Linked DNA regions of Homo sapiens: region 1 is linked to region 2. The links come from fine-mapping of genetic effects on gene expression. Tissue or cell type: skeletal muscle. Region 2 holds a variant in brackets; the other region holds the start of a gene. All regions are shown on one strand. Distances are from middle to middle.

Evidence for each region. PIP is the estimated chance that this variant, and not a neighbour inherited with it, causes the effect.
Region 1: CACNB2 starts here. The variant in region 2 is fine-mapped to the expression of CACNB2 in skeletal muscle (FUSION, PIP 0.92).

What each region holds. Positions count from the first base shown.
Region 1 is chr10:18,136,914-18,145,021 of GRCh38, forward strand. It overlaps CACNB2 (calcium voltage-gated channel auxiliary subunit beta 2), which reads left to right and starts at 3,511. Exons shown (of 14, transcript NM_201596.3): 1 at 3,511-3,943. The coding sequence starts at 3,824.
Region 2 is chr10:18,462,793-18,470,900 of GRCh38, forward strand. The region is part of intron 3 of CACNB2 (calcium voltage-gated channel auxiliary subunit beta 2); the gene reads left to right. Among named protein-coding and RNA genes, the nearest start is that of CACNB2-AS1, 72 kb to the right of the region's middle. The variant G/T (reference allele first, on the strand shown) is at 4,221.

The sequences.
Region 1 (8,108 bases), 330 kb before region 2:
GGTCTCTTTAAACATCTGATGAAAGATGAAATTCTACTTCCCAAATGGTCCTAATTGAAAGCGAATGCACAAATAAGCATGCTATAAGAAACTGGACAGACATCATGAGAAAACACTCAGTTTCACCAAACCTGGTGTTTTTTTTTAAATAATGTTTCTTCTTTTGTTTTCTCCTTCCTTCCTTCCTTCCTTCCTTCCTTCCTTCCTTCCTTCCTTCCTCCCTCCCTCCCTCCCTTCTTTCCTTCATTTATTAATTGGCTTTTAAGTGCTAACTAGCAAGACTGTAAGCCCCATGGAGCTGGTAACCTGGTCTTTGTTGGCTGTGCTCATCAGGTGGCACAAAATAGAAGCTTGATTCATACTTTATTGGATGACTATTGAAAGAACTCAGAGGGCAACTTGCCAGATTCTGAATGTGTCCTAGAGAATAAGTGTGGTTCCTGTCCACACAGAGTTTACAGTCTGAAATGGATTTAATGTTTTCCCTAAGATTTAAACACATGCTCAAGAAAACTTCACAGTTTGATTAAATGAGTAGGCCTAAAACAGTGATATTATCAACAGAGCATGGGGCAAAAGTAGACTATAAGTCGAAAACTTTAAACACAATTTCTTTTCCATTTTCACACACACATACATACAGGCATACATATAAAAGCATGGCTGATTGTTGCTGTTCAAAATGTTCCCATTTTAGAAATTATTACAAACCAATATTTAAGTGCTGCTGTTTAACATTCAGCAAAATTTAAATAAAAGTGGCATTTTAATTTTTTTAATTTTATTTTTCCATAAGTTATTGGGGTACAGGTGGTATTCGGTTACATGAGTAAGTTCTTTAGTGGAGATTTGTGAGAACCTGGTACACCCATCAACCTAGCAGTATACCTTGCACCATATTTGTTGTCTTTTATCCCGTGCCCCCTCCCACACTTCCCCCCAAGTCACCAAAGTCCATTGTATCATTCTTATGCCTTTGCATCCTCATAGCTTAGCTCCCACATGTCAGTGAGAACATATGATGTTCGATTTTCCATTCCTGAGTTACTTCACTTAGAATAATAGTCTCTAATCTCATCCAGGTCATTGCAAATGCTGTTAATTTATTTCTTTTCATGGCTGAGTAGTATCCCATCATCATATATATCAGAGTTTCTTTATCACCTCGTTGATTGATGGGCATTTGGGTTGGTTCCACAATTTTGCTACTGTGAATTGTGCTGCTGTAAACATGCATGTGCAAGTATATTTTTTGAATCATGACTTCTTTTCCTCTGGGTAGATACCCAGTAGTGGCATTGCTACATCAAATGGTAGTTCTACTTTTAGTCCTTTAAGGAATCTCCACACTGTTTTCCATAGTGGCTGTACTAGTTTACATTCCCACCAGCAGTGCAGAAGTGTTCCCTGATCACTGCATCCATGCCAACATCTGTTTTTTGATTCTTTGATTATGGTCATTCTTACAGGGGTAAGGTGGTATCACTTTGTGGTTTTGAGTTGCATTTCCCTGATCATTATTGATGTTGAGCATTTTCTCATATGTTTGTTGGCCATTTGTATATCTTCTTTTGAGAATTTTCTATTTGTGTCCGTAGCCCATAAAAGTGGCATTTTTAATACCAAAGTTTAGGAAAATCAATGATGCTTTATGGCTAAATCTTTAACTGTATCAAGACCCATTCTTTAAGCCTGGCGCAAATCAGTGCTATGGTGGAGATGATAGGTTTAAAATGTCTATGCTTATCTTTGAGGAGAAAAGTACTGTATCTCATGTAATTTAATATATCATAGTAAACTATAGAAGGCAGTTGAAGCCTATTATAGTAAATTTTTGCATGTGTATTTCAATATACCAAACTTTCAGTTTGTTGTTACAAAATAACATATAAATAGGTTTCTGGAGCTGGATGGGCACGGTGGCTCACACCTGTAATCCCAGCACTTTGGGAGGCCAAGGTGGGCGGATCATGAGGTCAGGAGTTTGCGACCAGCCTGGCCAACATGGCGAAACCCTGTCTCTACTAAAAAATACAAAAATTAGGCTGGATGCAGTGGCTCAAATCTGTAATCCCAGCACTTTGGGAGGCAGAGGCGGGCAGATCACCTGAGGTCAGGAGTTCGAGACCAGCCTGGGCAACGTGGTGAAACCCCATCTCTACTAAAAATACAAAAAAATTAGCCGGCTGTGGTGGCGTGCACCTGTAATCCCAGCTACTCGGGAGGCTGAGGCAGGAGAATGGATTGAACCCAGGAGGCGAAGGTTGCAGTGAGCCAAGATCGTGCCACTGTATTCCTGCCTGGGTGACAAGAGTGAAATTCTGTCTCAAAAAAAAAAAAAAAAAAATGCCTGGAAAACTCATTACAGAAGTTTCCACTGTAGTAAAATTTGTTGAAATAAGTTGCACTCAATCATGTAAAAATGTGGCTCCTTGGGACTATCTGAACGGAATGTTGTAAGTGAAACACCCTCACCATAGTCACTATCCTGTTATCAAGAATTCTGGATCTTAAGGAAGTGCTTGTTTTGTCAAAAATGTGACACTAAGACTTTTCACCCCTATAGAAAAACCTCAACCCTGGCCTGGCGTGGTGTCCCACCCCTGTGATCCCAGCACTTTGGGAGGCCGAGGCCGGTGGATTACTTGAGGTCAGGAGTTCAAGACCAGCCCGGGCAACATGGTGAAACCCCGTCTGCACTAAAAACACAAAAATTATCTGGGCTTGGTGGCCTGTGGCTGTAATCCCAGCTATTCGTGAGGCTGAGGCTAGAGAATCGCTTGAACCCAGGAGGCGGAGGTTGCAGTGAGCTGAGATCGCGCCATTGCACTCCAGCCTGGGCGACAGAGTGAGACTCCGTCTAAAACAACAACAAGCAACAACAACAACAAACTTCAATTATGTTTGGAAAGAAGTGCTAATTTAATTTGGCAAAGATGAAGACAGCAGTCATAAAGCAAAACATTCGGTCTCAGGTTGGGTGGATTCCCACCTAGTTGACGAGGCCAGCTGCAGATTCAGGTGGGATCACCTGATGATCTTTATCAATGCCATTTCTTTCTCTGGATCCTTATTACTGACATTAGCAAGGGCTTTCAGCTGCCCAGAAGATGTTCTTTGCAGACATTTGCTCTCCCGGGCTGCCAGCAGGCTTTACAAATTTAAAACTTTCAGTGTAGGAACCCAGCCTCCGTCGTCCTTCCCCTCCAAAGTTAAGAGATCTGCTCTAAGGGTTCCTGAGGGGTGGTCTGGGGCCATGGGAACAGGATCAAGGCCCCCTGAGCGCCGGGCCTGGCTTCTGTGGCTTCGCAAACTTTTCAGCCTGTGTGCCACGGCGACGCGCAGCGGCTGAGTCGGAGCCCACGCGGCGCGCGCCTCCCGCGAGGAACTTTTCGGCTTGTAGGCTGCTTGTCACTCTCGCTTTCCGACGCGCCTCCCCCTGGCTCGCGCTCCCGGAGTTCCCTCCCCTCCTGGCGAGGACCTTTCCCGGCGCCCGCGGCTCCGATCCCCGCCGCGCTGCGCCCGCTCTCCCGGCCCCGGCTGCCCCGCTGAGGGCTCCCCTCTCCCAGGCACCGCAGCCGCGCCCCCGCGTCCCGCCTCCCGAGCGGCTCGCTTCGCCCGATGCCCCGGCCCCGTCCCGCGCACTGAGCGCCTGGCAGCAGGGCGCCGAGTCCCGGGGCGCTGCGGGGCGCTGCGCCGAGAACGGCCGGGCCTGAGCCCTGGGCGGCCCCCAGAGCCGATCAGAGCGCGGGGAGGCGGGGGCGAGGAGGAGGGGACCCGCCGCCGGGGGCTGGCTGCTTCGCTCCGAGCCGACTTTTCGCCAATGGTCCAAAGGGACATGTCCAAGTCGCCTCCCACAGCGGCGGCGGCGGTGGCGCAGGAGATCCAGATGGAACTGCTAGAGAACGTGGCTCCCGCGGGGGCGCTCGGAGCCGCCGCACAGGTAGCGAGAGCGCGGCGCCTTCTCCTTCCTTTGTGAGCCGCCGGGCAGGGCACCGACCTCGGGTTCTCCCGGCGCCTCCACTGCAGGGATCTCTAGCCTCGCACCTCCTCCCCTCGTCGCCTGCCCACCCTCTGCTCCTCTCCTGGCGCCGGGGACCCTGCCCCTTTGCGCCTTTTCCTGGCTCTGCCTCGGCTTCCATTTTTCTCTGCTTCCGAAAAGCCAGTGGGGAAGGGCGGGGGAGACCTGCCAGTCCTCCCAGACTTCTCCCGGGTTGCTCCAGCTGGCCCTCCTCGCCCCTTCCCGGGAGAGGCACATGGAGAGACATGAATCAGGGGAGTGGACTGGACCTGCTGAAGATCGTGAGTCCGGGTGGGCGGGAGGGGGCCCGCTTCCCGCAGCGCTTTCTACGATGCCGACTCTCCTGGCCACGCTCCGAGCCGGGGTGGGCGTGGGTGTGAGGATGATGGGGTGCAGGTGGGCAGGAGGGGAGCGAATATGGGGGTGCCCTGCCGGATCCCCCCAGAGCTGCCCGGACCACGCTGCGCACCTGGGGCTGACAGCTCTCCAGTCCCCTCGGGCACTTGCCAAGGTTTGCCTGTCCCACCTCATGCCTTTCCCTTAAGAAGCGAGTGAGCTGGGGACAAGAAAGTTTTTATTTTTCCGTCTCCCCTGAAATGTTAGCCATTTCAGGGATCTCCAGGATCCCCTTTCTCTCCGTTGAGTGTTTGCGGTTTCTGGAAAAAGTCAGCTTCGCTGCAGGTTGTTGTGAAATTGGAGATGTCAGTTGTAGGCGCTGGGCAATGACAAGGTGGTTTTTACGTTTTTACGTAAGGCTTCAGCAGGTACAGTTTGGGTTACAGACACCTCCAGGTCTCAGCGATGAGGAGTCGCTCAACTTTTCTCCCGGCAGGGAAATGACTTCAGACTCCTAGCTGCGGGCTGGCTGTTGGCTGGCCAGTGATGTGAAGAGGTCTTGGTTACATTTCAGGCAGCATTCTGGAGAAATGTCTGTTTGCTTAACTGTGTTGGCTTGTTGATTTCAAGCCTACATTTGCCAGATTTTAATTTGCGGTAAGATATATATGTGTGTGTATATATACTTATATATTAATACGTAGACACACATACACACACTAGAGAGCATGTTAGAGTATCATTTGCTGTAGTAGTGGGGGCAGGAGTGTGACAAGCTAATAAAGGTGGCAAATGTTTTCTTGCTGTTGTTTTGATAGGTGGAACATGAGTGCTCTAGATATTTTGATATTGTAATCATGGCAGTTCCAAGTGGCATAGTAGTCTAGCTTTATTGAACTTTCTTTTACCATTGGGAAATTAATGTGCTAACTTAAAACACATAATTCACTTTGACTTGAGAAGGGGAAGAATGTGGACACCAAGGACTTGTGTAATCAGAAATCTATTTCTTTTGTAGTGGTAAAACAGCTAGATTTTGGTCCACCCTGGGCTGTTTGCTTCACAAGCCGAGTAGGGACATGTAATGAACCAGCTACATTCCCATCTGGCCTCTGCCAGAGGATCTGAATTTTAACCAATAGAGTTTGCATTTGTTCTAGACTCCTGATTTTTATCTAGATGCTTGCCAGGTTAGACAGAATGAAAAATGTACCCGGAGACCTCGGTTATTCTAGGATGAAGGTCTTGAATACTATCAGTATTCGAGTCCTCCATCAAAGGAAAGGACATTTAGACCCTCATTTGCCTTTGATCTTCCTTGAGGGATATTTTAGAAAAGTTTTTATTCTTATGATAAAAATAGAGTTCCTAAATTCCTGGACATCAAAGTCAGGGCTCACATAACTGCATTCAGATAAGAGATACTAATTTACTTTGTGATTTATGTACAATGATTAAATGTAAGTCAAGTTATTGTACAGCAGCAATGTGGAAATGATTCTGATGTGAAAAGACACAATTTCTGCCTTCAAAGAATTTATATTCCAGTAGCAGCAATTAGGATATATGTATAGGGGCTGGAAGAGAAGTTCTGACTAGTAAATGGCTTCAAAGGAATAAGGATAATAAACACGCTATTTGGAGGAATCTGTAAGGACTTCATTGATGAGGTGGCATTTGCAAAGAGAATTGAAGGATGGGTCAGATTACACCAGATATTTTTGAGAGAGTTGGTAAGCAGTCGTACATGAAACAGAGTCCCAGAAGTAAGAAGTCTTACAGGATAATTTATCGTTTCTAGTTCAAAAAGAGCATGGTAAGGTCAAGATTGGACACAGGCGTAAAACTGACAAAGCAATTTGAGACTACATCTTGGGGACTTGGAATCTTTAGTGTATTGAGCGACAGGGAACTGTGGAAGGAGTTCAAAAGAGGACCCACATAGCAGCTCATTTGGGAATATTCACTTGGAAATGTTCTGTAAGATAGTTTCAAGTCTTAGGAGTCCAGAGGTGAAGCTGCCAGGCAGCAGACAGATGTAACAGTTTGGGCCGAGGTAATAAGGCCTAAGCGAAAAAGAGATGAAAAGATAATGGATATGACAGTTCTATGTATCAAACATTTCAAAGTTCAATTCACAGGAATTAGCAAGTGATTGCATAGATAAAGGAGAGAGAAGAGAAAGGGCAGAATGGATTTTAAAAGCAAGTTTAAGAGATATAAATATTCAACTGCATCAACATTCATCTCCTTGCTTTCTCTGCCTTCCAAAAATGAAAGCAATTTGACTTGAATTGCGTTCATCTCACACCCATTATTTGAGGGAAACATTACCTTGTTTATTTTATATCTGATAAATCATGGCATCATAGGATTGTGTGAGGCTTGGGAAAGCCATCTCTTCCATCTCTCTGTTTGGGCAGAACAGACCAGCAGTAAAAACTGCCTGAGAAAGGAGGCTGGCTCTAGAGCATCCTCCTTGTATGTGGCACCGAGTAATTCTACTCAGAATTATTGGGCAGTTCTACCTAGAAATGGAGTTTCTATTTACAAATGGAACCTCTAAAGCAATGATTGGTTTTAGGAATCATTCTACCTCACCTCTGGATTATAGTATTATATTTGTATGAAGAAAGCAGAAGATGTAGATTTGCAAACTCTGCCATTTTCCTTTTCTGTATCAATCATTCTGTCTAGAGAGAGGGAGCATCCTGATACATTCCGGTCCCTTTGCCCCAGTACATTGCCATAAACAAAATGATACATTTCTCAAAGCCCTGGTTTTTGTTTTGTTTTGTTTTTGTTTTTGTTCTGTTTTGTGTTTTGAAACGGAGTCTCACCCTGTCACCCAGGCTGGAGTGCAGTGGCATTATCTCAGCTCACTGCAACCTCCACCTCCTGGTTTCAAGCAATTTTCCTGCCTCAGCCTCCTCAGTAGCTAGGACTACAGGCGCCCGCCACCATGCTCAGCTAATTTTTTTGTATTTTTAGTAGAGACGAGGTTTCACCATGTTGGCTAGGCTTGTATCAAACTCCTGACCTCAGGTGATCTGCCCGCCTTGGCCTCCCAAAGTGCTGGGATTACAGGCGTGCGCCACCATGCCCAGCCCAAAATGGATACGTTTCTTACATGGGAAATGAATGGCAATCTAACTGCAAATTCTTGAAAGTCCCCATTTAAGAAAATTGCATTGCTTTTTAGGTAACCTGTTGAACAGTTTCAGCGTGAACCTGGACACAGTCTACTTCCAAAGTCCAGGTGCTCATGGAGGACCCTTTCTCCAAGCTCCAGATCTGTCTGTTCATTGTGGTAGCTGCTAGCCACCTGTGGCTTTTGAGCCCTTGAAATGTGGCTGGTCTGAACTGATATGTGCTGTAAATGTGAAATACACACCAGATATCAAAGGCTTAAGATGAAATAAAGAATATAACACATCTTCATTAGTAAATTTTAAATTGATGACATGTTGCAATGACCATGTTTTGGATATGCTGGGTTAAACAAATGCATTGTTACAATTAATTTCACCTGTTGCTGTTTACCTTTTTAATGTGGCTGCTGGAAAATTTCAGTGATATATTTGGCCATATGACATTTCTATTGGGCAACATTAAAGTATGAAACTGGTAATTCTCCAGGGAATTGAATAGCTCCTGCGTGAAGGTTGGGTGAACGGGAAGCAGGTGACAGGGATTGATAGGTAACAGAAGAGGAAACGGAGGAGTAACAAGAACAGTATCTCAGCACTCT
Region 2 (8,108 bases):
CTGTTGCCCAGGCTGGAGTGCAGTGACACGATCTAGTCTCACTGCAACCTCCACCTCCCAGGTTCAAGAGATTCTCCTGCCTCAGCCTCATGAGTAGCTGGGATTACAGGTGTGTGCCACCACGCCCAGCTAATTTTTGTATTTTTAGTAGAGACGGGGTTTCACCATGTTGGCCAGGCTGGTCTCGAACTCCTGACCTCATGGTCCACCCAACTTGGCCTTCCAAAGTGTTAGGATTACAGGCAAGAGCCACCGCACCCGGCCACTTATTTCATTTATTGACCTCACTTCATGCTCCACTAAGAAATAAAAACTTCACAGATAGCAACAGCCTCATCTTGCCACCACCAAATCTGTAAACCTGCCTTTATCTGTGCCCCTTGTGTGTTCTCCTTCTTCCCTCCTGTTAGAAGAAGCATCTCTCCTCCTGTCAGAATCCTCCTGTTCTTGGCCAGGCATGGTGGCTCACACCTGTAATCCCAGCATTTTCGGAGGCTGAGGCAGGAGGATCATTTGAGCCCAGGAGTTCAAGATCAGCCTGGACAATATAGCAAGACCTCTTATCTATTAAAAAAAAAAAGTTTTTGTGTTCTTTGTTTCTCACCTTCCAAGACTTTTTCTTTCTCTTTTTGGAATCAAGGTCCTGCTTTGTCACCCAGGCTGGATTGCAATGGCACAAGCATAGCTCACTGCGGCTTCACAGCTTCAACCTCCCAGGTTCAAGTGATTGTCCTACATCAGCCTCCGGAGTAGCTGGGATTGCAGGTGCACGCCACAATGCCCTGCTAGTTGTTTTTTTTTTGTTGTTTTTTGTTTTTTTTTTGTAGAGATGGGGTTTTGCCATGGTGCCCAGACTGTCTGGAACTCCTGGTCTCAAGTAGTCTGCCCACCCTGGCCTCCCAAAGCAGGATTAGAGGTGGGAGCCACCGTGCCTGGCCCCAAGAGTTCCTATCCTGCAGCATCTAGTCATCCCCTCTCTACTGGATCACTCCATCAGCATGACATATTATGGACATTATGGAGTGGCCCATGATCAGAGCCCAAAACACCACATCCCAGCTCCTCCCGCTCCATGCAGCCTCCTAGCTCTGCCCCCCTTCCCAGCCAGGCCTTTGACAAATGAGTGGTCTGCACTTAACTTCTCCCTTCCTCTCCTCTTCATGTCCAGATATTCCTCCCACAGCTCTAACACATTGCTCCCAACAAGGCCACTAACAACCTCTGTGCTGTCAGAGAAGTCATAAACATCGTCTTATCTTACCCAAGCTGTCAGCGGCCTTCACAATCGTTGAACCCTACCTCCAACTTGACATGTTCTCTGCTCTTGGCTTCTGAGACACCATGTTCTCTGGACATCTCTTGCCAGTTCTTTTTTTTTTTCTTTTGGGGAGGGAGTGGTAGGGACAGACAGACTCCTATCCCTCTGCATAACTTCTCAAAGTTAGGGTTCTTTAGCACTTAGAACCTGGCTCTTTTCATTAGCCAGGTGTGGTGGTCCATGCTTGCTACTTGGGAGGCTGACATGGGAGGATCACCTGAGCCTAAGGAGGTCGAGGCTGCAGTGAGCAGTGATCACACCACAGCCTTCCAGCCCGGGCAACAGAGTGAGACCCTGTCTCAAAAATTAAAAAAAAAAAAAAAAAAAAAAGAATTTGGCTCTTTTCTCTTTACTTCTCACTCTTAGATTCAATTTTTATTTCCAAGCTTCCCCACTTGTATATTCACACGGACCTCAAACTTACCCAAATCGGAGCACCTGATTGCCCACCTCTACCACCCAACATGTTCTTCTCTCAGGCTCCCCCTTTTCAATAATGGCCCTAGCCATCAATAAGCCCTGTTGTTTCTATAATAACTCTAAAATACACCCAGCTTCACCACTACCACACATCTCCAAGCCACCATCCACTCTCATCTGGACTCTGCTTCTGCTCTTATTCCTTTCCAACGTGTTCAAAAAGTTAAACTGGAGAAAATTGACAGCATCTGCATTTACGCAGGGGCGGTAGGAATGGGAGAGGAGGGGAGGCATTTTAAAACTATGTATTTAGTGGTTAGAACATGCAGATTCTAGTGAACCAATGCAAAGTGGGAAAGAACCAAGAGGAAGGAGTCCAGGTTAAAGGGATATTCAACAGAATGGGGCAGATGGGAAGGCCAGGCTTTGAACAGGTGACTTCGTCTTGGGACTTGTTGAGCTGTGGGAGGATCAGATGGATATTCTTGGAGGTGGTTGGATATAGAAAACTAGAAACAGCCGGGCATGGTGGCTCACGCCTGTAATCCCAGCACTTTGGGAGGCCGAGGCAGGCAGATTACCTGAGGTCAGGAGTTCAAGACCAGCCTGGCCAACATAGTGAAACCCCATCTGTACTAAAAATATAAAAATTAGCTGGGCTTGGTGATGCACACCTGTAGTCCTAGCTACTCAGAAGGCTGAGGCAGGAGAATTGCTTGAACCTGGGAGTGGGAGTTTGCAGTGAGCCAAGATCATGCCACTGTGTTCCAGCCTGGGCGACAAAGCAAGACTCTGTCTCAGTAAAAATAAATAAACTAGAAACAAGACTTCAGGGCTAAATATGTACATATAGGAATCATCCATGATAGGATGTACTTGAAGCCATGGAGGCAAATAAAATCACCTGGGAAAAAATGTACAGATGAGAAGATGAGAGTGTAATCCTGCTTCTTGCCGCAGGTTGAGTTTTTGGAGCACCCTCGTTCCACCTTCTAGTCCCAAGCGTGTGTTCCTCTTCTCTCCATAGCATTACCCTACCTTCATGTGGTCCTGGTTACTTCCTCCCAGGATGCATGCAAAAGGAAGCACAGTGTTCCACATTCCCTTTTAGTCTTGTTGATCCCAAAGATAAGTACGTCATCCAACTTCTTCTTTTTTTTTTTTTTTTCAAGATGGCCTCTCCCTTTGTCAACCATGCTAGAGTGCAGTGGCATGATTGCAGATCACTGCAACCTCTGCCTCCCAGGTTCAAGTAGTTCTCCTGCCTCAGCCTCCCGAGTAGCTGGGATTACAGCATCCACCACCTCGCCCAGCTAATTTTTGTATTTTTAGTAGAGACAGGGTTTCACCATGTTTCCCAGGCTGCTCTCGAACTCCTGACCTCAAGTGATCTGCCTGCCTCAGCCTCCCAAAGTGCTGGGATTACAGGCGTGGGCCACTGCGCCCGGCCCCAACTTCTTTATAAAGGTTTTGTTACTGAACATTTTGGCACTTAATAAAATTATCTAAACCTCCCAAGAGAGTGACAACACTTGACAAACACATACAGGCACACCTCCCTACCCTGGGGATGACTTATCTGACATTCCAGTTACGGTGCACGAAGCCAAGAATCCCTAAGTAGCAAATAAAACCTTTCAACCATTGAAGTAGAGTTATAACTTCCAGACACTAAAGCTGGAGTTCGTCTTTTGCCTATTTAATCTATATATTTTTTATTTTTTAGAGACAGTGTCGCTCTGTCACCCAGCCTAGAGTGCAGTGACATGATCATAGCTCACTGCAGCCTCAAACTTCTGGACTGAAGCAACCCTCCAGCCTCAGCCTTCTGCATAGCTGGGACTACAGGTCCCAGCACACCACCATGCCCAGCTAAATTTTTTACAGAGACGAGGTCTCACTATGTTGCCCAGGCTGGTCTCAAACTCCTGACCACAAGCAATGCTCCTGCCTCAGCCTGTCAATATTTTACCTGTATTTCTCATCAGCTTGGTTTTTTGGTCATGGTTGTTAATTTTTGAATTATATGAAAGTCCTACATAGAAGGTTCTCTCCTGGTGTTTTGGCAGATGTAAGAAAATTGATTTCGTTTGTAGCTGTTAATTTGAGAATCCATTGTAGATACTAGCAATTTCTGAAGGAATAAGAGATTCACACTTTAATGGGACTTCACAATCTTTCATCTAAAAATTCTAGCTCCTGGTAGGGAGACAAGTTCCAGACCCACAACTATTAGAAATATGTTAATAAACTGGGCCCCGGATTGAAGCATGTCTAAACAAACTATGGAATTTAATAATGTCCGAATAATGTGGAAATAATGTTTTCAGTGGAATAGGATGAGGCTGGGTGTGGTTCTCACACCTGTAATCCCAGCACTTTGGGAGGCCGAGACGGGCGGTTCACTTGAGGTCAGGAGCTGAGAGCAGCCTGGCCAACATGGTGAAATCCTGTCTCTACTAAAAATACAAAAATTAGCCGG[G/T]CATGGTGGCAGGTGCCTGTAATCCCAGCTGCTAGGGAGGCTGAGGCAGGAGAATTGCTTAAACTCAGGAGGCGGAAGTTGCAGTGAGCCAAGATCACAACACTGCACTACAGCCCAGGCAACAGAGCAAGACTCTGTGTTTGTTAAATAAATAAATGGAATAGGATGAAACAGAAAAACATTGTCATTTTTTGAAAACTCTGAAATAATCTATTCTAAAGTAATTCAATTGAAATAATAAATTCACTTTGCATTCTCCTTTTGCCACAAGATTCAAATATTTACTAACTGGCATCAACACTGGTGTTCAAATTCAGTATTGGCAATTTCACACTTGAAGACTGTCTGTGTTCCCAGAGAGTGTTAAGTCTAACTTTGAGGTCCACAAATATTTATTGGTGTCTGGTGTATGCCAGCAACTGGGAAAACAATAGGAGGTGGTTCCTACCTCAAAAAGCTTGCAGTTTGGTGAATTTACAGTCTAGTAAGACTAGACCTACGTAAAAGATACAGAGCAATGCAAAACAGTAGATGTCAGATGCCATTTGACTAACATACGCGTTAATTGCTGCAGGATTTCTAGGGAAGGAGAATCTGGTGGGCTGCAGTAGGAGAAATTGGAAAATAATTTACTATTCTCCATTGACAGTGGCAGTCAGGAACCTGGGAGCCCAATTTATTTGTCCCCTCAACCCAACTCAAATGGGTCCTCCCTTGGGAACTTTGCTGCCAACTTGCTCCTCTTCTAAACCCCTCCCCAGGCACAGTCTATCAACCCCAACTTTGCAAAACTTCCATTTTTTGTTCTTAACTATGCTAAAGTACTCACAATGCATTGCAATTGTTTGTAAGCCTGTCTCCTCTACAAGATTCTGATTTCCTGTTTTGTTATGTTCATCTTTGAATTCCCCTACTGCTTAGTATGATACATACAATATTGTTAGTGTCCCCAAAAAGTGTTTTTTTGTGAATTAAAGAAATGAATGAATTCACAATGTATGACTTGGGCCTTAAGGAAGATGGCATTCCTACATCTTAAAATTAGTAAACAGCATACCTTTACCAGGCACATGTTGATCAGAAATAAAGGAAAGTAAGTAGCCTGTAGAACTGGGGTGCTCAAACACCAATTTTTCTCAGGATTACTGAAAAACTTAAATATACAGGCCAGGTGTGGTGGCTCACGCCTGCAATCCCAACATTTTGGGAGGCTAAGGCAGGCCGATTTCTTGAGCTCGAGTTTGAGAACAGCCTGGGCAACATGGCGAAAACCCATCTCCACAAAAAACACTAAAAAAATTAGCTAGGCATAGTGGCATGCATATGTAGTTTCAGCTACTTGGGAGGCTGAGGCAGGAGAATCGCTTGAGCCTGGGAGGTGGAGGTTGCAGTGAGCTGAGATGACACCACTGCATTCCAGCCTGGAGTCAGATCCTGTCTCAAACAACAACAACAGTAAAAACAAAACAAACAGACAAACAACCTTTAAGTTATACAGCTAAATATAAAGTTCACCCCAAACTTAGTAAATCTGAATCTGCAGGCATTCAGGCAAAACTGCAGACTGAGCGTCTGATTTTTTTTGTTTTGTTTTATTTTGTTTTGAGACGGAGTTTTACTCCTGTTACCCAGGCTAGAGGGTAGTGGCACAATCTCAGCTCACTGCAACCTCTGCCTCCCGAGTTCAAGCAATTCTCCTGCCTCAGCCTGTGGAGTAGCTGGGATTATAGGCACGCACCACCACACCCAGCTAATTTTGTATTTTTAGTAAAGATGGGGTTTCTGCATGTTGGTCAGGCTGGTCTCAAACTCCAGATCTCAGGTGATTCGCCCGCCCTAGCCTCCCAAAGTGCTGGGATTACAGGCATGAGCCACCATGCCTGGCCATGCATCTGAATTTTTTAAAGGTGCCATAAGTGATATACAGCCAGGTGGTTACTATAAAATGTTTGCAGATAACTGGCACTGGTTGCTATGAAGAAGCAAATATTTTTAAATTTAATAATATTAAGAATTGTTTGACCCAGGAGTGCAAAAGCAGCCTGGGCAACAAAGCGAGACCCTGTCTCTACAAAAATTAAAATTAGAAAATCAGCCATGCATGGTGGTCCCAGCTACTCTGGAGGCTGAGGTGGGAGGATTGCTTGGGCCCAGGTGGTCCATCCTGCAGTGAGCTATGAGTGCACCACTGCACTCCAGCCTGGGTGACAGAGGGAGACCCTGTCTCAGGGAGAAAAAAAGAGAAAGCACAGAGCCTAGTTTGTTATATCACCCTTGGGGGTTCAAGGTCAGCACCATGGACATCGCCATTGGATGGGTTGGTTTTTATCATTCCTTCCTTCACACCAGTCTGTCAATTACCCCATCTTCCTTTATTTCGTTGCTAATATTTATGCCTCTCTAGTGTCATCCCACTTGATGTATTTAATATGTTGTTGGCAAGCATGGCAGTTAGCTCAACTTTTTAGCAGCTGTATTTTGAATGAAAACCAACCTCATGTTCCAAGTCCTCTTGCTTAATTCTAGCAAATTCCTAAACTGTATCCAAATCTAGAAGTCTGACCCCTATGTGGGGTGGTTCTTAGGAAAACTTATTTAGACTGTATTACAAGTAGTTCGGTTCTAACCTCTTAATTTTACATTTGTACAAATTGAGGCTCAGAGAGATGACGTTCTTGAGATGGAGAGTTACTGATAATAAACTAAGTTCAACAGTGTTTTCATGGTTTGGTCCAGAAGTTACTATAAAATCGTAACCACATCCATGGAAGGAATATCTAGTTACTAATAAAAATAAATCTAATGGTTGATACAGTTTCTCTAAATCCTCCCTACTCTTTATTAAAACCTATTTAACCACATTTATACATGTTTATGTACAATGTTATCCACCCCAATAAGTCCTGGGATCTTGAGGTTAAGAGTCCTGGTTCTATTCATCTTTGAATACAACCCAACAACAAAAACAGAGATTAATTATACTCATATTTTTTCTTTATCATGCTATAAATCCACTTTGCAGTTAATATCTATGAAAATTAATGAACATTTAAAATAAAGTATTCAACTTAGGAATTGAATATATATTATATATTTATTGAATGCGTTTTCATCTCTATTTAAGAAAACCAGATAATTGCACTAGCCAAAATAAAAAAATTTAAAATCCACATTAAAAAGAAATGTATTCAGGGCCAGGCATGGTGCCTCATGCATGTAATCCCAGCACTTTGGGAGGCTGAGGCTGGAGGATCACCTGAGGTCTGGAGTTTGAGGTTGGCCTGGCCAACATGTATATAATATATATATTGTATATAATGTATAGTATATATCATATAGACTGTGATATATTGCATATATTATATATAGACTATGATATACAGCATGTGTTACATATAGTATATAACATATGGTGTATATTATATGTGGTATATATTATATAGAGACTGATATACTGTATTGTATATATTACATATGATATACTGGATAGACTATGATATACTGTGTATATTATATATACTATTTACGTTATTCTGTATATATTATATATACACTATATCTCTCACCTTTCTATCTAAACCTGCTTCAGTTGCATTGCATGGAGCCTTTGCATACAGTTTGTTCACCCCTAAATTATACATGCAGTTCACCAGATCCTATTACGCTATGTCTGTTCCCCCTTTAAATTGATTTTTCACAAGCACTTAGCTTGGTGTCTTCAGCGTCTGGCACCTGGTAGGCATTGAGATGTTTGTTGCAATCTTTCTCAAATGCTGGGTGTGGATGGTGGTGGTGTCAGCAGCAGAATTAAAAGATAAAGGAAACCATCTGTCCTTAAAGGAACTCACCCTGGTCACAGAGACTGACATGCAAGGGGAAAGGGTATGA